Linked DNA regions of Homo sapiens. The protein of the gene in region 7 interacts with the protein of the main gene of each other region in a biochemical or structural test. Each region holds a gene or a part of one and is shown on either strand. Other genes may lie near its edges.

The links.
Region 1: the proteins of REELD1 (region 7) and FRMPD3 interact in a test that uses a peptide from one of them, tested with the Homo sapiens proteins (one large-scale study listed by IntAct).
Region 2: the proteins of REELD1 (region 7) and SYNJ2BP interact in a test that uses a peptide from one of them, tested with the Homo sapiens proteins (one large-scale study listed by IntAct).
Region 3: the proteins of REELD1 (region 7) and PARD3B interact in a test that uses a peptide from one of them, tested with the Homo sapiens proteins (one large-scale study listed by IntAct).
Region 4: the proteins of REELD1 (region 7) and LDB3 interact in a test that uses a peptide from one of them, tested with the Homo sapiens proteins (one large-scale study listed by IntAct).
Region 5: the proteins of REELD1 (region 7) and GRIP2 interact in a test that uses a peptide from one of them, tested with the Homo sapiens proteins (one large-scale study listed by IntAct).
Region 6: the proteins of REELD1 (region 7) and DLG2 interact in a test that uses a peptide from one of them, tested with the Homo sapiens proteins (one large-scale study listed by IntAct).

Annotation. Positions count from the first base shown.
Region 1 is NC_000023.11:107,456,152-107,459,651, reverse strand, and holds part of FRMPD3 (FERM and PDZ domain-containing protein 3), read right to left. Parts: intron 1-3,500.
Region 2 is NC_000014.9:70,407,091-70,410,590, forward strand, and holds part of SYNJ2BP (synaptojanin-2-binding protein), read right to left. Parts: intron 1-3,500. UniProt on the Homo sapiens protein: Regulates endocytosis of activin type 2 receptor kinases through the Ral/RALBP1-dependent pathway and may be involved in suppression of activin-induced signal transduction.
Region 3 is NC_000002.12:204,548,475-204,551,974, reverse strand, and holds part of PARD3B (partitioning defective 3 homolog B), read right to left. Parts: intron 1-3,500. UniProt on the Homo sapiens protein: Putative adapter protein involved in asymmetrical cell division and cell polarization processes. May play a role in the formation of epithelial tight junctions.
Region 4 is NC_000010.11:86,675,011-86,678,510, reverse strand, and holds part of LDB3 (LIM domain-binding protein 3), read right to left. Parts: intron 1-3,500. UniProt on the Homo sapiens protein: May function as an adapter in striated muscle to couple protein kinase C-mediated signaling via its LIM domains to the cytoskeleton.
Region 5 is NC_000003.12:14,516,343-14,519,842, forward strand, and holds part of GRIP2 (glutamate receptor-interacting protein 2), read right to left. Parts: intron 1,556-3,500; coding exon 1,430-1,555; intron 872-1,429; coding exon 722-871; intron 1-721.
Region 6 is NC_000011.10:83,464,845-83,468,344, reverse strand, and holds part of DLG2 (disks large homolog 2), read left to right. Parts: intron 1-1,527; coding exon 1,528-1,637; intron 1,638-3,500. UniProt on the Homo sapiens protein: Required for perception of chronic pain through NMDA receptor signaling. Regulates surface expression of NMDA receptors in dorsal horn neurons of the spinal cord.
Region 7 is NC_000004.12:146,224,538-146,228,037, reverse strand, and holds part of REELD1 (reelin domain-containing protein 1 precursor), read right to left. Parts: coding exon 3,430-3,500; intron 1-3,429.

The DNA.
Region 1 (3,500 bases), on a different chromosome or scaffold from region 7:
TAAAAGGAGACTAAAATCTCACAAATATCCCTTTATCTGCAGTTCTCTATTTCCCTCCAATCCAGGGCTGGCAGACCTGGCCCAGACACCTATCCAGGGCTGATATTCAGTGGATTGGGTGGGGAGGGGAAAGTTGGTGGGGGAGGCAATTTAGCAGGCAGAGGCCCTGGCCATGACTCTCCCATCAACCTGTGGACTCCTCACTTAGTTTCCTTATACCAGCTGCAACAGGGCTCCAGCTGGCATCAAAGTGCTGTGGTAGCTCTTGCCATACTCTGGCACAGGTGTGACCTTCACTGAGATGATTCCCAAGTGCTCAGAAGAGTTTTCAAACTGATTCTACCAGGGAAGTTGAAAGATGTTTCCTCACTCTTACCAGCTCTCAGAAGCCTTGGGGGACTTGAAACAGACCAGACACAGGCATCGCCTGCCTCCGGCCTCCCTGTTGGGGGATGTAATACTCAGCACCCCAGCTTGGCTATCATCTCAACTGCATTCTGCAGCCAGATTCCTCATTGCTCACTCTTTCAGGTCATGGTACTGAAGGCCCCTGTGCGCATCTACTTTACTTGGAAAGGATAACTGATTATAATGCCCAATGTTATCTTAGCTCCAGAAACTCTGCCACCTTAAGGTCCTGAGGGCATGAGGCAAAGAAAGTGTAAGTATTGAGGCTAAGAGGAAGGAGCGAGTGAGACAAAAACAAGTCAAGAAAATCTACTTGGTGGTTTATCAGCCACACCGATGCCTTGAGAGCCTTTTGGATTTGACCCTCCTCTCTATGCCCACTGCCACCACCCTTATCACCTCTCACTTAGATTGCTGTAGTATCTTATAGGCTGGTCTCAAGTCTCTCCCTATTCCAATCAATTCTGCTTCCAACTGCATAGCTAACCATCCTGAATCACTATGCATAATTGTCCGACAGCCCCCAAGGTTTACCCAAGTCCAAACTTCTTCTGACATCAGAGACTCTTCAAATCTGGGAGTCCCATACCCAGCCAATCATTTTTTCCCCACTGTGCCTGCATATACACCCTCTCCTCTAGTCAGACTTCTTTCTGACCCTTTCTTGATAACACCCTGACCATTTCCATCTCCAGCCTTTTCCCTATGCTGTGCCTCCCCCTCAGAAGCCTGTTCCTTTTCTAGTCAACAATCTCAATCTCACATGTTACTCAAAACATAACGCAGGTTCAACTTCTTCTGGGAAGACTTCTCCCCTCATTCCAGCCCACACTCTCATTCTCTCTGTGCTTTGAACCCCTACAGTGCTTACTGTTTAGAGCAAAAAAATGTGGCACATAATTGTTTTCCATCTTGTATTATTCTTAGTTACTTCATATGAATGAGTATTATTTTTCTGTTAAATTACGGATTTCCAGAGAGCAGGGCCTTTGCTTTCCCCTTCTCACCATAACATTAGTACAGGGCTAGATCCTGGAGTGGTCAATAGACTTCTCTTCCCATGCCTTAACTCCAGTATGAAGGAAGGATGAGATAAGTGAAGCCCGCTAAGGATCTCCGCTGTTCATTCCCTCACCTTTCTCAAAAGATGTTCCAGACGGCAGAGGAGCTGAGGCTGCCGAGTGAGACATAGGCAGCCAATCAGCTGTCAGATCCTAGCTTTCAGAACACTCCCACCTCCTAAGGTTTTCTGGGCAATCAATAACGCTACTTAAGTGATCAATCTGAGGCACAATGGGCTGTAGGGGCCAGTGTTTGATTAACTTGAGAGAATAAATGTACGCTGGAAGAGAAAGAGCAGGGAGGGGGGAGCAGAAGAAAAAGCAAGAAGAAAGATGAGCTAGGGGAAGGAAGAGAGAGAAAAGCCTTTATGAAGGAGGGTATGATGGGATGGAGCTGAGAGTAGTTCTCACCTAATCCAATTCAACGAGTTAAGCAAGTTCCTACTGAGGTGTCGAAATAATCTTGGGGCTTTGTCAGAGTCCAGTGAATATCCCAGGGCTTTTAGGCAATTTTTGACTTTGGCAAGAACACTGTTGCCATGGTCCACTGAGGGTCCACACAGCCTCCATATTGGGTGGAAGAGTGGGTGTGGGATAGAGACTTCAGCCAATATCAAGGAAAGACATGGATCTTGAGCTATGCTCATTGGCTGTGTCTAGAGAAATCCCAGGTTCTGGCATCCTACACTCTCCTACCCAAGCCTGATGACTCAGAAACCCATGATGATATGGGACAGTAGGCTCATCTGCAAGGGAGATATCAGCATTACCTTCTCTCTATCCAGAATTGTATATACTATCCTCCCTCTCAAGGCCCTGGAGCTGGAAATTTAACTATTTGCAGTTAACAAAAAATACGGAGTCCCTTTCCAAATGTTTTCCAAACATTATCAAATGTTTAGCTATACCACGAATCAAATTTTTTTCTGGGAAAGATAGTATTATCTGGAAAAAAAAAACAGAGCAGATGGCCTCTTACTGTGAGAAAGTGAGAAAGTTCCTCCTTTAATCTAACCATGATACCTGCTGCTCTCATTAAAAACTCATCCTTCTCATAGGATGACATTGGTACCCTCCTGGTTATGCAGGCTCAAAGCCTTAGAATCATCTTTGACTCTTCCTTCTTCCTCACCCCACGCATTCAATTGGTAGGTAAATCAGGTTTCCTCTACCTCCAAATACATTCACCCATCTTCTTTCTGTCCCCAACCAGCTATGGTAACAACCGGCTAACTGGTCTTCCTGCCTCCAGAATGATCTTGTTTTAATCATTATGCCAAAGCGAGAAAAAAAGAAAAATGAGCTTGAATCTAATCAAGCCCAGAGCTAACTTCCATTTATAGAAAATATAGGGGATAGGTGAACAAGCTAACTGGCAATAAGAGGACAAACCAGAATGTGGGAATTGTGCAGAGCAAACAACCTGATTTCTGTGACAAGTCAAAGAGAGAGGGCTGTTGAAAGGGCCTTTAGAGACATAACAACCAAATGTCACGTGTGGAACTTTTTTGGAACGTCCGTCAAACAAGCCAACTGTAAAACATGTTTTGAGACAATTGAGGGCATATGATTATGGACAGGGTAATGGATAATACAAAGGCATTATTGTTACTTTTGTTAGGTGTATTAGCAGTTCTGTAGTTATGTTAGAAAATGTCCAGTTTTTAAGAAATGCATAGAGAAATATTAGGAATAAAATGATGTGATCGATGTTTGGCATGATAGGTGAAGCAAACATGGCAAAGTCCTGATAACTAGTTAATGTGGATAATGAGTATGTGGGGGTTACTATACTATTTTCTCTAATTTTTTTGAGGTTGAAAATATTTATAAGAAAAAGTAAAGACAGGCTGGGCACAGTGGCTCATGCCTGTCATCCCAGTGCTTTGGGAGGCTGAAGTGGGAGGATTGCTTGAGCCCAGGAATTGGAGACCAGGTTAGGCAACACAACAAGACCCTGTCTCTATGAAACACTAAAAATTAGCTAGCAACTCGAGAGGCTAAGGTGGGAGGATCACTTGAGCCCAGGAG
Region 2 (3,500 bases), on a different chromosome or scaffold from region 7:
TTATTAGGTTGGTGCAAAAGTAATTGCAGTTTTTGCTATAAAAAATGGCAAAAACCGGCCAGGTGCGGTGGCTCACACCTGTACTCCTAGCACTTTGGGAGGCCGAGGCAGGTGGATCATGAAGTCAGAAGATCACAACCATCCTGACTAACATGGTGAAACCATGTCTCTACTAAAAATACAAAAAATTAGCCAGGCATAGTGGCAGGCGCCTGTAGTCCCAGCTACTTGGGAGGCTGAGGCAGGAGAATGGCGTGATCTCCTGGGAGGCGGAGCTTGCAGTGAGCCGAGATTGTGCCACTGCACTCCAGCCTGGGCAACAGAGCGAGACTCCGTCTCAAAAAAAAAAAAAAAAATGGCAAAAACCACAATTACTTCTGCACCAACTTAGTCAATAATAAAAGGCTAAAGTTTCTCAAAGCACCAATTTTGTGTTAATTAAGCAAAAAAAAAATTTGTTATAGTATCCTCCTTACAGTAGACTTTTTCTACTATTTCCTATGCAAATATGATAAAATGATTTTTAAATAAATTCTAAGTATATCCCCAAGATAAAATCAAAGTAAAAAAAAAAACATAGAAGATGAAGTTTAAACTCAAAATCACCATAATCTACCTTTCTAGCCATCTTTGGACATTCTCTACTTTGCATTATACAGTAAACAAAATTTAATATTTGCTATCGCTTTTCACCCTATCATCCCCGCCCACAGCTACTGCTTATCTCCGTGACTTTGGATGTCTTCTTCCCTTTGCCTGAAAACATGAAATTACTTGTTTAATTGTCTCATTACCCTATTGCAATATTCGTTCCTAGAAGACAATGTAATTAGCTTATATTCATTTTTGTACCTCCTGTGCCAATATAGTACCTAGTACATACACAAAGCCCAACTGGTGTCAATTGACTATTATTGGAATTGAAAATTACACCTAGGTCAGGAATTTCTAACATTTCCAGTTCTAGGGAAATCTCACAAGGTTAAAAATGTTTCTGGGAGCTTCTAACAGGTTTTTTTTTTTTTTGGAGGAGGGGGAAGGACTATTGCAGTAATAGGGTTTTTTTATAAACTAAGGCATAAAAGGAGGGAAAAAGAGAAACAGAAGCCCCATATCCCTGAAATTACTGACACAGCTTACCCTACCCTTCCTAGATGACTCAATTCTTGCCCCATAAAGTCTACTCCCCACATAGCAGTATCCTTAAAGCACTTCAATGAATTAAATGAGTTGTTTTGTGGTAAAGTGCTTAAGACAGTACAGAATCGTCACTACAAATTATTTATAAAACAAAAATCGGACAGGCGTGGTGGCTTATACCTGTAATCCCAACACTTTGGGAGGCCGAGATGGGTGGATCACCTGAGATCAGGAGTTAGAAACCAGCCTGGCCAACATGGTGAAACCCCATCTCTACTAAAAATACAGAAAAATTAGCCAGGTGTGGTAGCGGGCGCCTGTAATCCCAGCTACTTGGGAGGCTGAGGCGGGAGAATCGCTTGAACCCGGGAGGCAGAGGTTGCAGTGTGCTGAGACTGCGCCACTGCACTCCAGCCTGGGCAACAAGAACAAAACTCCGTCTCAAAAAAAAAAAAAATCATTGAATCCTCACAACTCTATAAGTAGATTCTAATAATACTCTCATATTATAGCTGAGGAAACTGGGGCAGATAGAAGTGAGGTGACTTGCACAAGGTCACACAGTGAGTGAGTGATAGAGTAAGGATTTGAACTCAAGCATTCTGGCACTTTTTCTTTTTTGAGACTGAGTCTCGCTGTATCGCCCAGGCTGGAATGCAGTGGTACGATCTCAGGTCACTGCAACCTTCACCTCCTAGGTTCAAGCAATTCTCCTGCCTCAGCCTCCCAAGTAGCTAGGACTACAACAACCTCGAACTCCTGGGCTCAAGCAATTCTTCCACTTCAGCCTCCCAAGTAGCTAGGACTACAAGCATGCACCACCAAACACAGCTAATGTTTTGTTTTGTTTTGCTTTGTTTTGTTGGCAGAGATGGGAGTCTTGCTATGTTGCCCAGGCTGGTCTTGAACTTCTGGCCTCAAGCAGTCCTCCTCCTTGATCTCCCAAAGTGCTCGGATTACAGGCAAGAGCCACAATGCCTGGCTTGAACTGCAAAATTCTTAAAAATGGGGATCATTTCTTATTCTTTATTCTAGTGTCCATGATTCCTAATCATAGTGTAGGCACATAATAAATGCTAAATAAATTTTAAAAAATAGTTTTACTTTACTTTTCAGTCTTCTGAAACCAGCAGTTCTGACCCTATCATCTAAGTATAGTTTGGCTATTTTTCCCTCAATAAATAATTGTGTACTTATCACATGTAATCATTGACCACTTTTCTGGCTAGTCACATGGCTTCGCAAAATGTTTCTGCAGTTGAACATCTATCAGCTTGCCTTTCTATTTCCCCAAAGTAATTCCTAGATATTTTACTGTACAGTTTTTCTTTAGTATTGTTTTGAAAAGATCTTAATACTGATCCTTGAAGCAATCTTTAGAGAACTGTTCCATTTACCTGACTCTCTCCAAGAGGTGTTCCATCTACTCCTTCTCCTTGTTTCTGATATCTTAGCCAGTTTCCTATCCATCATAATACAATGTGTCCATCCTCATTCTCTCTTTCTCAAATTGTATTTAGTGAAGAACCATGTTTACCACTTTTTGAAAGCTGAAACAGATCATGTTACTGCTTCTCTTTATTTAAAACATCCCATTATGGCAGGCACAGTGGCTCATGCCTGGAATCGCAGCACTGTGGGAGGCTGAGGTGGAGGATCACTTGAGCCCAGGAGTCCAAGGCATGACTGGGCAACATAGTGAGATCTCGTCTCTACAAATAATTAAAAAAAAAAAAAATTAGTCAAGTGTGGTGGTGCATGTCTGTAGTCCCAGCTACTCAGGAAGCTGAGGCAGGAGGACCACCTGAGCCCAAGAGGTCGAGGCTGCAGTGAACTGTCATAGTGCCACTGTACTCCAGACTGGGGGACAGAGCAAGACCCTGTCTCAAAAATAAATAAGTACATTGGGTGTGGTGGCTCACGCCTGTAATCCCAGCACTTTAGGAGGCCGAGGTGGGTGAATAACTTGAGCTCAGGAGTTGGAGACCAGCCTGGGCAACATGGTGAAACCCCGTCTCTATGAAAAATATGGCTAATAAAAACATTAATCAGGTGTGGTGACACACACCTGTAGTCCCAGCTACTTGAGGGGCTGAGACAAGAGGATCACTTGTACTCAGGAGGTCAAGGCTGCAGTGAGCCAAGATCGTGCCACTGCACTCCAGCCTCGGTGACAAAGTAAGACCCTATGTCATAAATAAATAAATATAAAAACATTCCATTATATTATTATGATATCTATCAGTTTGCTCAGTCATTTAATGAACACTTACTGACCACTGTGTGTCATGCACTAGACAAAGCATTAAAAAAACATTAAAGACACATGCATGCATGTGTTCACTGCAGCACTATCCATA
Region 3 (3,500 bases), on a different chromosome or scaffold from region 7:
CTGCCCTCTTGAAAGATGCAGATCTAGAACATCTCTTCATCCCAGAAAGTTCTACTGCACTACACTGCTTTAGATTTTCCAAGAGAGGCCCAAAGCTCTGAATGTTTAACACACTCCTCAGATGTCTTTAACAGTCCACTCATAAAATAGTCTCACAAAAATCTGACAACATTACCATTTGCCCAACTTCTTCAAAGGGAATCTGTAGCACAGAATACCCTGGGAATGAATTCCTGGTTAACTAAGCCACTTGATTAAGCACAGGGCCTCAAGCTACAAATCAGGGCTGTGGCTCCCAATCGCGCACAGGGCAATTAACTCAGCTCAGATAACCAGCCAAACCCGGTTCAGCAAACCCTATGTGCATGGATTATACACAGAGGGTGTGTGGGGATGTGTGTGTGAGAGGGAGAGAAAGAGAAAGAGGAGGGAGGGGAGAGAAGATCCAGGAGCACAAACTCAAATGCCCACCAGCAGGCCAAATAGCAACCATGAATTAAGGCCATAAGTGAGAAAATAAGCACAGAGTAAAAACAGTCAAGCATGATGACAATAACTTATCCTCACTGTTAGGGAAGCAATAATGGAGACTGAAGCATTAATAATTCTTTCTAAAGAGAGCAGAGGTGTCTCAGCTCCAACTGATGGTTGCTATGTGGGAAAGTAAAGCCCAGCATTGTCAGAGCTTCCAATTTGCTTTTCCCCCAAAGAAGATAGGAATCTGGAGTTTTGCATGAAATCTCAAAATATTTAAATGCTGACAACTAAGTCAAAATATAACACTGAGCAGACCTACAAAAATATGTCTGTGGGTCACAGCAGGCCCCACGAGCCCTCTGTTTGCAAACTTAGAAGCTGCTCAATGCAAGCTGAGTAGCAGAACCAAAACCAAGTTGGAAGCATGTGTAATGCTGATGGCGAGTCAGTTCTGTCCACATGCTGTAAAGAAGTGAGGTCTGAATAGGAAATAAAGCACTCAAGTAAGTCAGTGCCCAATCAATTGAAAAGCATTTGAGGAATCCAGTCTGGGCCTAGCTTATGTATACAAGAACCTTAAAATCTATTTAGGTAACAAGGCATCAAAGCCTGAAAAGTTTAGAAATTCAAGAGTTCTAGCCTATTCCTCCAGGCTACTCCCACACATTATCATACCAGATTCTTCTAACTACACAAATTCTCTTAGATTCCGATCCCACAGTTAATCAGGGAATGGAATTGTTAGTCTAATCAGACTACTCCCAGTTCTGGGAAGCTGCCTCAACTTGTAAAACAAACATATTATTCAAAATATCTGAATACAGAAAAGATTCATCTTGAAAACCCTATCAAATATAATTTTTCCTTTCCAAAAAAGGGTGTACTCACATACGCAGTCAGAGCCACAAATTGGCCTTTGTAAATTCCAGCATGCCTGCTATTCCACGAATTCAATGCTCTTATTTCTCATTCATTCCAACCCCAGAACACACTATACATCCTCATTACTAGACAAGCCTTTCCCTTATTCACTTCATCCTCAGTGAATACACACACACACACACACACACACACACACACACACAGTCAGCCCTCCGCATCCATGCATTCCGCATCTGCGGATTCAACCAAACCCCAGATCAAAAATATTTAGAAAAAAAACTACGTGTACTGAACACACACACACAATTTTCTTGTCACTATTCCCTAAACAGTATAGTATAACAACTGTTTAAATAGCTTTTACATTGTATTAGGTATTATAAATAATCTAGAGATGACTTAAAGTATACAGGAGGATGTGTGTAGATTACATGCAAACACTGCAGCATTTTATATCAGGAACTTGAGCATCTGCAGATTTTGGTATCCGAGGGAAGTCCTGGAATCAATCCCCTATGGATACTAAGGGACAACTGTCTATATAAAATGAATGTTCACTTTAAGCAATTATTTGAGCACCTTCTATAGGAAGAATTCTTTAAGGGTAGGAGTAGGAGTATTCCTAATGGCACTAAAAGGTCAATAAATACTCTAACAAATTCCATGCTTTTATTTGTTTGTTTTTTTTTAATGAGAAAAGGCCAGAAATGTCAAAATTCATTTTGAAAAACAATGTGTAATAAATTCACTTTCTGTAAATCAGTGAAAGACACTTAAAAGGTTTGAATCCCTAGACAGCAAGGTTTTAAGCCCTGCACTTCATAATAATAATCCCATTAACAAATAACATGTATTGTGCTTATTCTGTTGCTTAATAACAGATTGGTGTGTAGATATCTAAGACACAGTATCTGCCATCAAAAGAGTTTAAAATCCAATGAGTTCAGCCATACGAAAAGATTAGAGTAGATTAGTGATTCTCAACCTTGGCTGGGCATTAGAATCACCTGGAGTGCTTTTTAAAATACCTATGCCCAGGACCCACTCCTAACCCAATGAATGAGAATCTTGGGGGAAGGGACACAGGTATTTGTAATGTTTAAAATGTTTAATGTGAAAATTAGAGGTTACTGAAGTTCAGCCAGGGTTGAGAGTCCCTGCAGGATACAGCTCAATTACCCATTCACCTGTGACACATAATTTTGATGATAAATTTAACTAATTACTCAACGATCCCCACCATAAGCACATAAGAAGACAATCACTTCTCCACTAACAACTTCACTAAATTGGATTTGGAGGCTGGGACACTGATAAAGTGTCAGGATTCGGAGATAAGCAATCCCACAGTTCTCACCTCTCAGTCCACCACGTTTCCAATGGAGTTCATCAAATGGTGGCAGGAACCTCAAAGGCCCAGACTTCAGAGCATAATTAAAGCCTTCCCAAAAGCTCCCCCTGTATCTTCAGGATCGCATCAACCTCTGGCCTTATCTGATGTTGATTCAGGGGGTTCCCAACATTCCACAAATAGGTTTTCTTTGTTCTCAACAGGTAGTGGTTACTTCTCAGACGCTGTCCACGAAATATAGAATGGCATTCTTGGACTTCACTTACTTTCCAAACTTTAGAAACCTCAACTTCATCCTCAATCTTGAAACCTGTCTTTCTCCCATCTACATTACTCAGTGCCTCAGAAAATAATGGACTTACTTTACATTCATGTTCCCACCAAATTTGGTTCTTTATAGCACTCGCCACCTGGATGTCTAAGATCTTGCCCATTTTCCCATTTGTAGTTAGACTGAGGAATATTTTTCATAGTTGATTTGCAAATCCTACAATATTTGCCTCAGAAACTAGATTTTCTACATGTAGACCTCATAAAATATATAATTAAGAGAAACTTGTGGATATCCCATCACTATTCCAGAAGCAAAATTGCTATTTTTAGGTTGATGTGATATAGCAGTTAGTAGATGGAAATGTCTTTTTAAATCAAGCATTAAAAAACAAACAATATGGATAAATTCCAATTCATAACAACATACATAGTACTAGGCTATGCAGTTAATGGCTGAGAGCAAACATCTAAAGACACAGTTCCTGGTTTCTAAACCCAAATCTACGACTTACTTGTC
Region 4 (3,500 bases), on a different chromosome or scaffold from region 7:
AAAATTAGCCATGCCTGGTGGTGGGCGCCTGTAGTCCCAGCTACTTGGGAGGCTGAGGCAGGAGAATTGCTTGAACCCAGGAGGCAGAGGTTGCCGTGAGCTGAGATTGCACCACTGCACTCCAGCCTGGGTGACAGAGGGAGACTCGGTCTTAAAAAAAAAAAAAAAAAGGGTGGCCAGGTGTGGTGGCTCATGCCTGTAATCCCAGCACTTTGGGAGGCTGAGGCAGGCAGATCACCTGAGGTCAGCCTGGCCAACATGGTGAAACCCCGTCTGTACCAAAATTACAAAAAAAATTAGCTGGACATGGTGGCATGTGCCTGTAGTCTCAGCTACTCGGGAGGCTGAAGCAGGAGAATCGCTTGAACTCTTGATTGAACCCAGGAGGTGGAGGTTGTAGTGAGCTAAGATTATGCCACTGCACTCCAGCCTGGGTGAGAGCGAGACTCTGTCTAAAAACAAACAAACAAACAAAAAACTGCAGGCTATTTGTAACCTTGATTAGCCTCTTATAACCCCTGCACCCTGCAAAGCTATGGAGCACTTTTCAGACTCCAGGAGAAAAGGGAGATGCAGCAGCTAAGACACAGCAGCATCCCAGAGACACTGCCAGGCTGAAGGGCAGGATAAATGCACCCACTCAAAAGCATCTTAGTGCCAGGTGCTTTGTGCTACCTGGCAGATGTGGAGAGAGTGAGGTAGCCGACAACCCTGCCTGGATGAGCAAACTCAGCTGGGAAATGGGGCAGGGCTTAGGGTTCTGTAGTTGATGTCATACCTCCAGAAGGCAGGGTGCAGGTGCGGGGGCCAGTTCCCAAACCCTGAGCCCCGATAATACCACAGAATGTTACAGTCTGGAGGCCCCATCTTCAGTGTAACCACACAGAATGCCACTGCAACTCCATCCCGGGAATTCCCCATGGAATCTCAGGAAGGCCACACCTCCTGGGACATTACTTGGGATGTCATCGTGGCTCAGACTGCACTCTTGGGGACATCATGCACGATGCCAAATTCTGCACCCCCGGCCTCCAGTAATAGCACACTGAATGCTTTGGTGGCCCTGCCCACAGTAATATCACATGAGATGCAAAATTTCAGAGGTTCTAATAATGTCACCTAAAAAGGCTTGATGGCTGGCCCCTAGTGACATTAGCAGCCCCACCCCTAAAGATACCTCATGGAATGCCAGAGACTCTGGCTGTACCCTCTGTGACATCACATGGAATGGGCTGGCCCCTGCTAATATCACATAGAATGGCTTTATGACCTGACTCCCACCATACCATGTTGGAGGTCCCCAACCCCCATGACATCATGAGGAGTGCCATGCAGGCCTGGCCTTCAGGGACATCACAGGAAAGAGGAGGCTCCGGACCCCACCCCCTACAAGCTGTGGCTGGAAGTGTTCCTTGGCTTTGCCTCCCAAACATGCCCACCAGCCAGTCCTCTGGGCTTCTCTGGGCACATCCCAGTCACCTTCCTGGCTATAACCCAAGGACCAAGCCAGCTCCTAGTGTTGGCAGAAGCTAGATTCAGGCCAAGGCCCGAGAACCATCCTAGAAGGAGCCCAGAGAGGCTCTGGGGACAGTCCCTTGCCCCAGGTGCCAAGCCTGGGTGGGCCTCTGGCCAGGCTCTGGGCTTACAGACATGGGTGGAAGCTCCTGCCAGTCCCCTCACAGGGAAGCCCCTTCCAAACCAGGATGCCCTGCAGTCACCAGTCACCAGTGTCCAGCCCATTCCCAGATGGGCTCTGCAGATGCAGCCCAGGAACTGAGTTGTTTCTGCACGACCACATTACGGGTCACGGAAACACTGCCCTACACCACGTGGGTGATGACGGCAAGACCAGGACAGCCCTCTCCAATTGCTGTGAACCTGCCATTTCAGCCCTAGGGGCTGTGGTGCCCTCTTTTTTTTTTTTCTTTCTCTTTTTTTTTTTTTTTGAGACAGGGTCTTGCTCTGATGCCCAGGCTGGAGTGCAATGGCATCATCTCGGCTCACTGCAACCTCCGCCTCCTGGGTTCAAGCGATTCTTCTGCCTCAGTCTCCCCACAGTAGCTGAGACCACAAGCGCATGCCACCATGCCCGGCTAATTTTTGTATTTTTAGTAGAAAGGGGGTTTTACCATGTTGGCCAGGCTGGTCTTCAACTCCTGACCTCAAGTGATTGGCCTGCCTCAGCCTCCCAAAGTGCTGGGATTACAGACATGAGCCACCACACCCAGCCTGTGGTGCCCTCTTAAAATACTGGCCACCTTGTGCCCACAGCGCCCCTTCCCCTGCCCTGGAATCTGCAGAGACAGGAAAGGACAATATAGAAACAGACGTCTGGACTGCCAGGAAGCCACAGCATCTGCTTTGCAAAGTCCAGCTTGCCCTCCAGGCCCCGCAGGGGCATCTTAGAGCTACTTGAGATTTCTTAAAATACACATAGCCCTTACCCCCAGACTCATTGCCATAGCCTCTATTAATGACAGGAGTGTATTGCTGCCTTGAGTGTAGAGGTGAACAAAGTGTAAAAACCAACATCAGTGAAGGAAAGCAAAAGAGTTTTCTAGACTGAGAGGGGACTCCTGGGGGCAAGTTGAGCTGCCCAGCCAGGCCTGTCCTGCAGAAAATCAACTTTCCCTACTCCTCTATGTGATCCCCAACATTTTATTATAGACATTTTTGCAGATTTCTAGGCAGGAAAAGTAGAAAACATTCTAAAGTGTATACCTGAACACCCGCCACCATGGCTGTACCATAACATTTCACTCGCTTTGCTTTATCACACTCCATCCCTCCACATCCATCAATCCATCTCATTTGCCGGGCATTTCAAAGAAAGTTGCAGGTACCAGCATACTTCTTTCCAGGGCGAATTTTGCAATGTCTGTTCTGTCCTAGTGAACTGCCCATGGGGCTCCCCCACAGCAGGACACCCCCACAGCAAGGCTCTCTCACGGCAGGGCACCCCCAAATGCCCATCTACAGAGAAGGGGTCGTCCCCCTGCAGGGCTGGGTCATTGCAGACCCCACGCAGAAAGGCTGTGGCCTCGGTCACAGAGGAGATGCTGACAGGAAAGATGGGAGTTGTGTCCAGAAGATCATGATGACAGCATGAGCAAGGGCAACAGAATGATATCCAAGAGAGGCTGGGGCCAGATCAGAGGGGCCCTCTGCAGGGCTATCTGACTGTCCTCCCTCTGGAGCTGCCTCAGAGACATCTTTCTCCCACAGGCATGGGTCAGCGGGCACCAGCCCTCCCCACCAGGTCTCCTCACTTCCCCTCACCTAGACCTGCCTGGCTCTCCCTCATCCTCAGGTATGGGCCGGGGGGATGCTTGCTCCCAAGGGAGAGCTCAGCCTCCTGGGGTCTGGTCAGTAGCCAAGCCTCTGACCAGAGGGAAGTGGCTGAGCTGGATCCCCTGCCCAGTGCCTCTCCCCTGCAGCTGTGTCTGCTTGTCAGGGCTCAGCTGGCCTGGCCTTTGGCTGCCCTGAGTAGGGTCCAACAT
Region 5 (3,500 bases), on a different chromosome or scaffold from region 7:
ATCTTCTATCCTTCCTGGAGGCCTCTGCAGCTCATGTGGCAGGAGGCTGAGAACCCTTTCTGCATCAACAAAGGAAAGACTGTTCCCAAGAAGGGTTTCAAAATTTTAGGCATTATTGTGTTTTGCCACTTCCACAGGGCTCCTGCCTTATCATTCACTACTTTTGTCTTCTATTGATTTACTTTTCTTAACATGTAAATATCTTTATTTCAAAAGGGCAATTTTGAACAATAAATAAGCAGAGAAGTAAGACTGGAAATTATTACATTCTGGACAGCTAGAGTCTCAGGCCATGTCTTTGTCTTAGGGGAAATTAACAAATGGCAGAGAGGTGGTAAGGATATAGTAACGCAGCACTGAGGCTTTATCCATGAATGAATCAGGACTGAATGGCAAAAAATGTGAAAACTTCATGCACATCTGAAAAGACTTCCTTTCCTCAAGGACGTTATCACCAAATCCTAGGAATTTTTCATAATAAAAATACAAGAATAAAAGTGTACAAAGTAACTGGCACCTCTCAGTGGTCCTCTTGAGCAGTGCACAACCTGCCCAACCATCCATGACAGCCTGGTGTTCCACTCATGTTATTTAACATTCCCACGCATACACCTGGAGCTCTGCCCAAAATACCTCCCCTCGCCCTGACATACACCCTTTGGCAAGCCTCACTCTCAGACATACAAGCAGCCCAAGGAGGAGGGAAGAGACCACAGCTTACACGAGCTCTTGTGTTCCCTTCTTCGCTGCCTCCTCCGCCCCATTGTAGTTCGAGGACTCATGGGCTGGGATCCACGGGGAAGGGTGCTGGGGTTGTTGCAGGAAAAGGCGTGGTTCAAGGTCGGCGAGGAAAAGGGAGTTGAAGACAAGGCTGGGGAGATGAGAGCACAGCCCCGTGAACCCCAGCCGAGGCTCTCCACCCCACCACACAGTGGGTGCTGGGAAGCCACCCAACCACAGGGAGAGATGGGGATGCCTTCCCCCTTCACATCAGTTACTCATTGTGTGACCTCAGGCAAGTCCCTTTCCTCTCTGGGTCTCAAAGACTGCAGGGTTTCCATAGACCCTGTGAAACTCAGCTATTAGGGACGGGGCCAATCTTGCCACTGGCATGCTAGATGACAATGAGGCAGGCCACCTAATCTCTCTCTCTTTTTTTTTTTTTTTTTTTTTTTTTTAGTTGAGGTCTCGCTCTGTCACCCAGGCTGAAGTGCGGCGGTGTGATCTTGACTCACTGCAGCCTCAACCTCCCAGGCTGAAGCGATCCTCCCGCCTCAGCCTCCCGAGTGGCTGGGACCACAGGCGTGCACCACCACACCCAGCTCACTAATCTCTGAGTCTGAGTTTCCTTCCCTTAGACAACAGGCATCGCCCCCTCCCTAGGAAAGGCTACAAGACTGGCTGAGCTACAGCAGGGCAGGCACATTACATCGGCTTTGGTCCTGGCCAGCAGGTGTGGCCCAGGTGGGCATCCTGCAGTGGCCGGGCCGGGGGCTGTGGCAGGAGGGCACGCAGGGGTCCCAGCGGTGCAGCTGCTCACTCCTCTGCACTTTCACTGTAGCCAGCGGAGAAAGAGGAAAGAGAGGTGCAGGCGTTAGTGGCTGAGGGCACTATGAAGCCAGGAAAGCAAGAACCAGAAGATCCTCGTGCTTCCCCTGAGCCAGGCAAGGCATTTAGTATTCTGCTCACATGTCCCGGACGCCTACAATGTGCCGGGCACTGTGTTCAGAGTGCAGCTGCTGCCACATGGCAGCCTGAGAGGCAGGGACAGGAGAGAGAAAGGAAGCCAGGCCGAGGCCCACTGCTGGGAGGTTGTGGAGCAGGGATTTGAACACAGGCATCCTGCCCTGGAGCCGGAGAGGTCTATGGCTATGAGTGCTGCCATGAAGTTTCTCCAAGAAAGAATTGGTGAGGAGTGCAGCTGGCAGACGGTGTCCAGCTGCAGCACTTTGGGGATATGCAGTGGCTCTGCAGCCCAGGCAGCCTCGGCCAGTGGCTGAGCACCGGGGCACTAGGGCCTGGCTATTTCTGCCCCACGACTCTCCAGGACAGCCTTTGCTCCAGGGCTTCCTGCTGGGTTGGCCAAGGCTGAAGTGCACCACGGGCTGAGGCTGCTCCCCCTTCCCAGGCTGCAACCCTTCCCAGCCTTATCCACAGTGAATTCTTTGCACTCCTGTTCCAAGTTCCCAGGGAACCCCCACTGCCCCGACCCCCTAGGAGACCCTGCTTCCTCCATCTGATCCTCCAAACTGGCCACCATACAACACCTCTTCCCAGACCGCCCCAGGCCAGCTCTCCTCTTGCGCGGATGGACAGGTGAGGACTCAACTGTCTCAGCCCGTTGATTCTGTCTCCTTGAGCCACATCTCCACAGCCCCCCTCCCCAGGGCTTGGCCCACTCTGGAGCCAGTTGCCTGGGTCAAATCCCAGCTCTGTCCCTGACCAACTGCGGGACCTGGAGGAGTCACTTCGCCTATCTGTGCCTCAGTGCTATTATCTGTAAAATGGGACCAAGAGAGTGGCCACCTCCTCGGGTAATGGGGAGGGTTAGAATGAGTTAATAATATAACATGCTTAGAGCAGTGCCTGGCACTTAGTAGAAGCTCAGTTAATGAGAGCCAAGGGGTTGTACGCAGATGTGTAGCCTTGCAACGCTACCTCAGCTTTCCCTGTAAAGTGGGAGGACAGTAAGACTAAGCTCAGAGAGGTGTCATGAGGAAGTAATGAGGCGTGCAGGCCGCGGCACCGAACCTGGCACGTGGCAGATGCTCGATAAATGGTACGAGAATGAATGACGCTGTTTCAAGCCCTAATGTCACCCAGACCAGTCCCTGGACTGTGGTTCATTCAGTGTGGCTTTTTCAGAAGCTGGCAGAGACCATAGAGATGGACTCTCCCCAAGAACTGTCCTCCCAATCAGATGTGGGGGATTCCGTTCTCTTCCAGAAGATGGGGTTTGCAAAGGGTGGGGTGGACAGACTCCTTCCTCACCCTCCAGCTCTGCCCTTAGGGCTAGGATTTATAGGCCTGGGCTGTGCCTTGTCCTTTATCTCCGTCAGCCTCCCCCATGTCTGTGCATTAGAAGTCCTCCCTCCTTTTTACAGATGAGATGACTGGGACTCAGAGAGGGAAAAGCACTTGTCCAGCTGCTGGGAGCAAAGATGGGACTTTCACTCAAGGCCCAAGGTTTGGGCTGCTGGACGTGCTTTCCTGCCCTGAGCTGAAAGCTGCCCCTCTGTGGCCACCCCCCACCCTGCCCCTGGCCCCAACTGTGCCCTCTGGACCCCCAGACCACCCACTTCCTCTGCTCTTGGAAATGCCCAGCACCCAGCTCCCTGCTCATAGCTGGGAGACCCTGACTCTTCAAAGGAGAAACTCCAGGCCCTCTCTAACTTCCCAGCTGCCTCCTCTGGATCTGCTGAGAGTCACTGAGAAGAGCCCAGGATCTAAGCTCTGAGTAGCAGAGAGCACAGGACTGTTCCCTCCCTCATTCTAGCCCT
Region 6 (3,500 bases), on a different chromosome or scaffold from region 7:
ACCAGCATTTATACATGTTATGTGGCTGCTGCACTTCACAGATAGAAAACTTGAAATCTATTACCTAAGTAATAACGGCTTGAACCATCTTAGTGGGTTTCTCAGATAAGAAGACTTCAAGTATTCACTGGACTGTATTCATTTTCATGTGAACATTATAGATGAGATTTTAGCCCTTATTATTGATTTAGTATTGTTCCTATCTGCATAAAGTGCCTTTTTTCTCTTCTTGCATAAAGTTATTCTAGCCTCAGGGTAATGAGGACATTTCTCTCCAGGAGGTAGAATATGATGTGGCAAATGTATCTGCATATCCAGAAATGCTTTATAAAGCAGCTGCTTGCTCTGAGCACTCATTGTGGTGGAAGCCAAGTTAAATGAGGTGTGCTATAATGTAATAGCATTTTTATTTGTTAACAAACAAGAAATTTACATACCTCATGCAAGCCTTTCTCTCTTGGCATTTAACCCGCATTTAATTTATATATATATATATATATATGTTTTAATTATATATTTTATATGTGTGTGTGTATATATATATATATATATATATATATATATATATATATACATATAGTTTTTATTTTTTTTGAGATGGCATTTCACTCTTATTGCCCAGGCTGGAATGCCATGGCACGGTCTCAGCTCACTGCAACCTCCACCTCCTGGGTTCAAGTGATTCTCCTGCCTCAGCCTCTCAAGTAGCTGGGATTACAGGTGCCCACCACCATGCCTGGTGAACTTTTTGGATTTTTAGCAGAGACAGGGTCTCACCATTTTGGTCAGGCTGGTCTCGAACTCCTGATCTCAGGTGATCCACCCGCCTCGGCCTCCTAGAGTGCTAGGATTACAGCCATGAGCCACTGCACCCAACCAACCATATGTTTAAGTTAACCATTTTTGTGTCTGCCCTCCACTAGACTGAGTACCTTGCAGACAGGATATGTACAAGTACTTGGAAAAATTCACATTATTCTCAATCTTCCACACCGAATGTTGGGCAGGGTGAGACAATGAGGTGTCTATTTTTTCCAACCAACAATTCTGTTAGTGCTCCAGACTTGGGTTTGCATGCTCCTAGCACTAAACTATTGGGCAAGTTAGTTAGTGTGAGTCTTCTGTAAAATGCAGCTGATAATACCTACCTCAGAGATTTGGGAATTTCTTCTGACAATTGTGTTCAGAGATGGTTTTTAAACTTCATGAGAACAGACTCAGTCACATAACATACGGCTGCATGTCATCTTTGTGTGTTACATCAGGTATTTAACTGAGAGAACATATGTAAAATGTCCAGTCCAGTAGCAGACACTTTGTAAGGGGCTAGTTAGTATTAGTTATTGTAAACACTCAATGATGACCCTATATATCGATTTTTATTTACTCTTTGCAGTGATCTTTTTCTGACTTTAGAAATCCAGCATCCCCTACCTTCCTCTAAAACCTACATACATTAGTTTCCTTTTGTTGGATTATGGCCATGCTTCCTATATTAACTTCATATTTTTCTTCTCTTTCTACCAGGGCAAACACTGTATACTTGATGTATCAGGAAATGCTATCAAGCGGTTACAAGTTGCCCAGCTCTATCCCATTGCCATCTTCATAAAACCCAGGTCTCTGGAACCTCTTATGTGAGTAGAGGGCATTGGAGGCCTTCATCCAACTGACTCCCTGTTCTGTATTATACTGAAAATTACTAACAGGATTTTGCTGGGAATGCTTACAAATGGGAAATGCCATTGTTGATTTTTCAGCATTCTCTTTTTTTGAAGATATATCAAAGTTCTTTTAAACAACTAGAAACATAATGTCAGTGATTTCTTTTTTTAACATCCCTCATTTTAACAATAATAGTAATTCCTTAAAACATCTTCAATAATGTTTCCTGATTTTTATTGTTTTACTTCACGGATTGTTTTCTTTGTTAGTTTTTGAGGTTTTGTTGTTGTTGTTTTGAGGATAGCTTGGCTTGATTTGGTTTTTTGGTTTGCTTTTGTTTTCCAAATGATAGGAAGCAATCATTTTTTAATTGTCTCATACTTCTGAGGCAGGTCTATAAGTAAATCTTTTTAAATGTGTAGATTTTTTATAGAGAGAGCAGACAACGTTTGAGACTTTTTTCATTGGCATTTTCCTTGGTTCTCTAATAGAATTCTGATGTTCCTTAATTAAAACTTTACATACATAGAACATCGTTCTTAATAGAGTTTTCTTAGTGGCGTGGCAGTAAAACATCTGTAACTTAAACCAGTAGCTTCATACCTGTGCACTCAGGGTTTTTTCTTTTTTTTTCCCCTCCAAAGGACTTGTGAAATAACTTCTTTCAAGAATCATTAAACAAAGTGGGCAGACATTCACGATCTGACTGTAAAGTCAGTATAGGCAACTCCCATTCACAAAGGTGAAGCTACAGTAGATAGAGGTAACCAGAAAAGGGGCTACCAGCAGGGACCTGAAAATTGATCAGGCAAGATTTGGTTCTTTACTTTGCCACTGATCAGTTAAGTAACCTTGGGCAAATTGCTTGACCTTTCTAAGATTTAGCTCCTCACCTCGAAACGAGGCATACTAATAAATACCTCATAGAGCTAGTATAAAGGTTAAATAACAAGATTAGGAATTTAGTAAAGCTGTTCATGTACTCTTTGGCATATGGTAAGTACTCAATAAATAATACCTATTATTATTGTAAAAGATATAAAATTACTTCATTATAAAGGAATAAAACTATTTTATCATTATAAAACACATAAACAGTACCTCTTCCATGACAGTGCAAGAGATAATGCCAATGTGTCTGTCATGAGGGCCTTGATCAAATTTTGCCTTCATCTGGGCCTCAAGACCATAGTGTTTGACAGGGTTCAGGAGTGAACCACAGAGTACTGGAAAATAATGTTTATGGAAGGACCGAAGAAACAGAAATTATTTAATCCCAGTGGTGAAAGCAATTGCTTACAGAGGATATTAACTGTTCTGTGTCTCCTCTGAAGACAAAGAAGCAAAGCAAACTGCAGCAGCTGGAGTGGCAGCCTGAGAGAATTAAGTTAAATACATAGTTGAGCTCTGGGGAAATAGCCAGAGATGTACCTTGAAAGCAGAATATAGTCCCATATATAAAAAATGGACAAGGATTCTTACCAGGATAAAAAAAGTAAGATCGGGAGGTCACTGACAGTACCTTCAGCCCCATGAATTTAGGTATTAAATTATAATATAAAGAGTTTTTCCCATGGCTGGCACATGGAAAAATATGTACTAATGATAAAATAATGATTCTTAATATTATCATCCCCAATAGCATGTATTAAATTTCTCCTTGTATAGGATACTATGTCGGGCATTGCACAAAGTGAATTAAGCAAGTACAAATTTCATGATGTAAAATTGATTTATAATCTGTCAAGAGCCTCATAAATATAAGTAATGCTAACATTAATGAGAAGAAAAATAGTCCTTACTTCCTGGGAACAGCCATCTTAAAGGCCTGTTTC
Region 7 (3,500 bases):
TACAAGCCCCTGACCACGCAAGGGCTTATATCTTTTTAGAGAGTGAGTCCCTGGCCTGTCTGGGCTTGTACCTTCTTAACAGCCACCATTCAGGGAACACAGAAAGCACTGTGACCACCATATTTATTTCACCTCTGCCAAAAACTGCTTCTAGCTAGAAAAAGGAGTGAAATCCCACAAATCAAGACTTTTCAAAGCCCTAGATCTTTCTTGCCCTAATATTAACACTCAAAGTTTCTTTCTCTGGTGATAATGACTTGAACATCTGCTATGAGAAGAGACGAGATCACTGCCCTTCAATGCCCTCCACCATCTAATTTCCCATTTGTGACTGGCTAACCTGACAGCCCAGAGCATGAGAAAGAGCTTCACATGGAGCAGCAAGCAAGCAAGTGCAGGTTTTAGAGTCAGATTCTTTTCTGGGTTCAGTCGTCCACTAATTTCTGGCTTTGGGGAAGTCCTCCCAGAGCATTAGTTTCTTCATTTGCAAAATGAGGCCAGCATAGGATTGCTGAGGGGTTGACATGAACTCATTGAGGTGGAAGCGTGAAGCAGGTGCCTGGCACACAGGTACACAGGCAACATGCACAGAGGGTTTACCACAATGATGATGAGGATGACATGATGGCATTGACCAAAACAGTGTTGGCAGAAGTTTCTCTGGCCAGGGCTCCAGGTTCTTTATGGGGGTGGAGGAGGTACCCCTTTGCTCCAATGTTTTTAACACTCAAAAACGTTGAGGTGAAGAATAAAGCAGCCTAGCCCAGACATACAGAACATGGCAAACTGATAGTTTCAAATTCCTGCCTGAACTCTAAGAGCATTTGGATATTTCCTGCAGACCCGCTGTGTGCTGGGTATTGTTATAGTTGTTGGAGATGCAAACATAATGCAGACTTGTAATTGGTGTCCCTGAACTCAAAACTGGGAAGAGACACCCTTACATGTCAAACTACCTAAATTAATAAAGAGGCCGGGCGCTCGCGCCTGTAATCCCAGCACTTTGGGAAGCCAAGGCAAGTAGATCACCTAAGGTCAGGAGTTCGAGACCAGCCTGGCCAACGTGGGGAAACCCTGTCTCTCTACTAAAAATACCAAAGTTAGCAGGGTGCAGTGGTGCATGCCTGTAATTCCAAGCTACTTGGAGGCTGAGGCAGGAGAATCGTTTGAACCCAGGAGGTGGAGGTTGTAGTGAGCTGAGACTGCATCACTGCACTCCAGCCTGGGTAGCAGAGAGAGATTCTGTCTCAAAATTAATTAATTAATCAATTAATACCAGAGCTAAGGAAGCAATTATATTTGCCGCTATGGTCTTAATGTGCCCCCCTCAAAATTCATATGTTGAAATCAAATCCCCAATGCAATAGTGTAAAGAGGTGGGGTTTTTAGCAGGTGCTTAAGTCATGAGGGTGGAGCCCTTATGAATGGGATTAGTAGCCTTATAAAAGGGGACTGAGGGAGCTTGTTCACCCCTTCCACCATGTGAAGACAGCAAGAACGCACCATTGTTGAGGCACAGATCATCCCTCCCTCACCAGACACTTATTCTGATGGTGCCTTCATCTTGGACTTCCCAACCTCCAGAATGTAGGCAATACATTTCTATTGTTTATAAATTATTCAGTCTAGGATGTTTTGTCATAGCAGCTGGAATAGACTAAGATACTTGCCTACCAAGAAGTATAAGGAAAAGTTTCACAAAGGAGATATTTGAACTGTGCCTTGAAAGACGCAGAGAACTGTTGTGTGGAACAGTCCAGTTTGAGGAAGTGTCAGAAGGGAAGGCACTAAAATATAAAAGTAGACCATACCTAATGGGGTGGAGGAGGACTCAAAGTGTCTTGGTCTATTGGGAGATAAGTTTCAGATATACAATATACTAATTTCCCAATTTTGAAAATTTATAATTTATACTTGCCTACGAATTCTTTGTACAGTTAAGAAACCTATTTCACTTTATTAGATGAAATAAGGTGAAATAGATTTCTTAACTGTACAAAGACAAACTTCCCAGAATACATACACACACACATGCACACACGCATGCACATAAATACATACATGCGTGCACAAGCATACATACATGTTTCTTTTTCCTTTGGGAATCACTAGGGTTTGGGTAGTGGAACAAATGGGGAAGACAGGCTGGGGCCAGAAGGAGAGGAATGTGGGCAGTGTAATGAGGAGGTTACCCTGTAAACTGCTTGGGCTGGAGGCTGCAACCCCCAGCGGACAAGGTTTCCAGCGGAGTCAGGCATAGAAAGGCCCAAGGCTCCACATGACACTTCTTCCTGAAGCTTCACTTTTATTCATATTCATGTTCAAACAAACATGGTTATACTTGGGATTAAAACATGATACTTGCATCATTCATAAAATAAAACATGAGATTTCAAACATATGTCAGGGGTGCAGGGTCTTCTCCAGGCCATGGTCTCAGGCTCCGAGATCTTTACTCTGCTTTTAGGAGTGTCTTGGTGGGAAGGTTGGAGGAGTTGTGCTGGGTAATAGAAGAAGACAAAGGTTGTGGGGCAAAGGCAGAGAATGGAGGGTGGTCCCCACTGTCTCTGTACCTGGGTCTGCTAGACTGAGAAGAGGCAGGGATTCTGATTGGATTCTGGCCTTAACATATTAGCAAAGAGTAAAGGAAAGAATAAGCGAAGAGGAGAATGAATGGATTAAGGGTAGGGTCTTGTGTGCATGTGTCTGGATGCTTTTACGAGTGCTTGTGTTCATAGCACTTAACTAGAAATAAACAACAAAAAGGAGTTCCATACCACCAGGGATTTTCAGATAGGTCAAACAGCCTCTAGCTGGCTAGTGGTTTTCCTTTGTTTTGTTGCTTTTCTTTTCTTTTTTCAGGAGTTCATGGACTAATGGAATATAAAGCCATGTAGTGAGCAAGGAAAAATCCCTTCCCATTGAAACAGTGATTCCTGATTCTGTTCTCCAACCCAGGTTGCAAAGAGCCACCTACCTACTATGAAAAGTAACAATAAAAACTGGATGCGTTTTTATGAGAAAAGACGAAGAAAAGCTCATTTCTTTTTTGTGCTCCCTGCGTAGCTTCAGGGGACTAAGGAAAACAGCAGAAATATTGTGAGGACTAGTAAATGTTGGGGGAAGAGGTGTATGCTGTTTTTTGGTATTGCAGCACAGCTCTCACTGTCCACCCTGGGGCCTGACTTAATGTGTTAGGTTGAGCCAGACAAAGTGTGTTTGCTGCAACAAACAAAGCAACTGCAAGCGTTCCCTCCCTCTCACTGCTGCGTTATCACATCCCCAAGAACTGCTGCAGTTGGCCACGGCAGGTGTTTATTGCTTGTTTTGCAGGAACAGGAAACTGGCAGTAGTAACTTTTAAGTGAAAATAGATAACTGTAAAAATAATGATGACAACCAGCCTGGCAAATACAATGACAAGCTGTACCTGGAGCAGCTCCTTCAACATCGCCCAGCCTCTGGTGAAGGTTTGGCATCAGCAATCTGGGCTCCATGCGG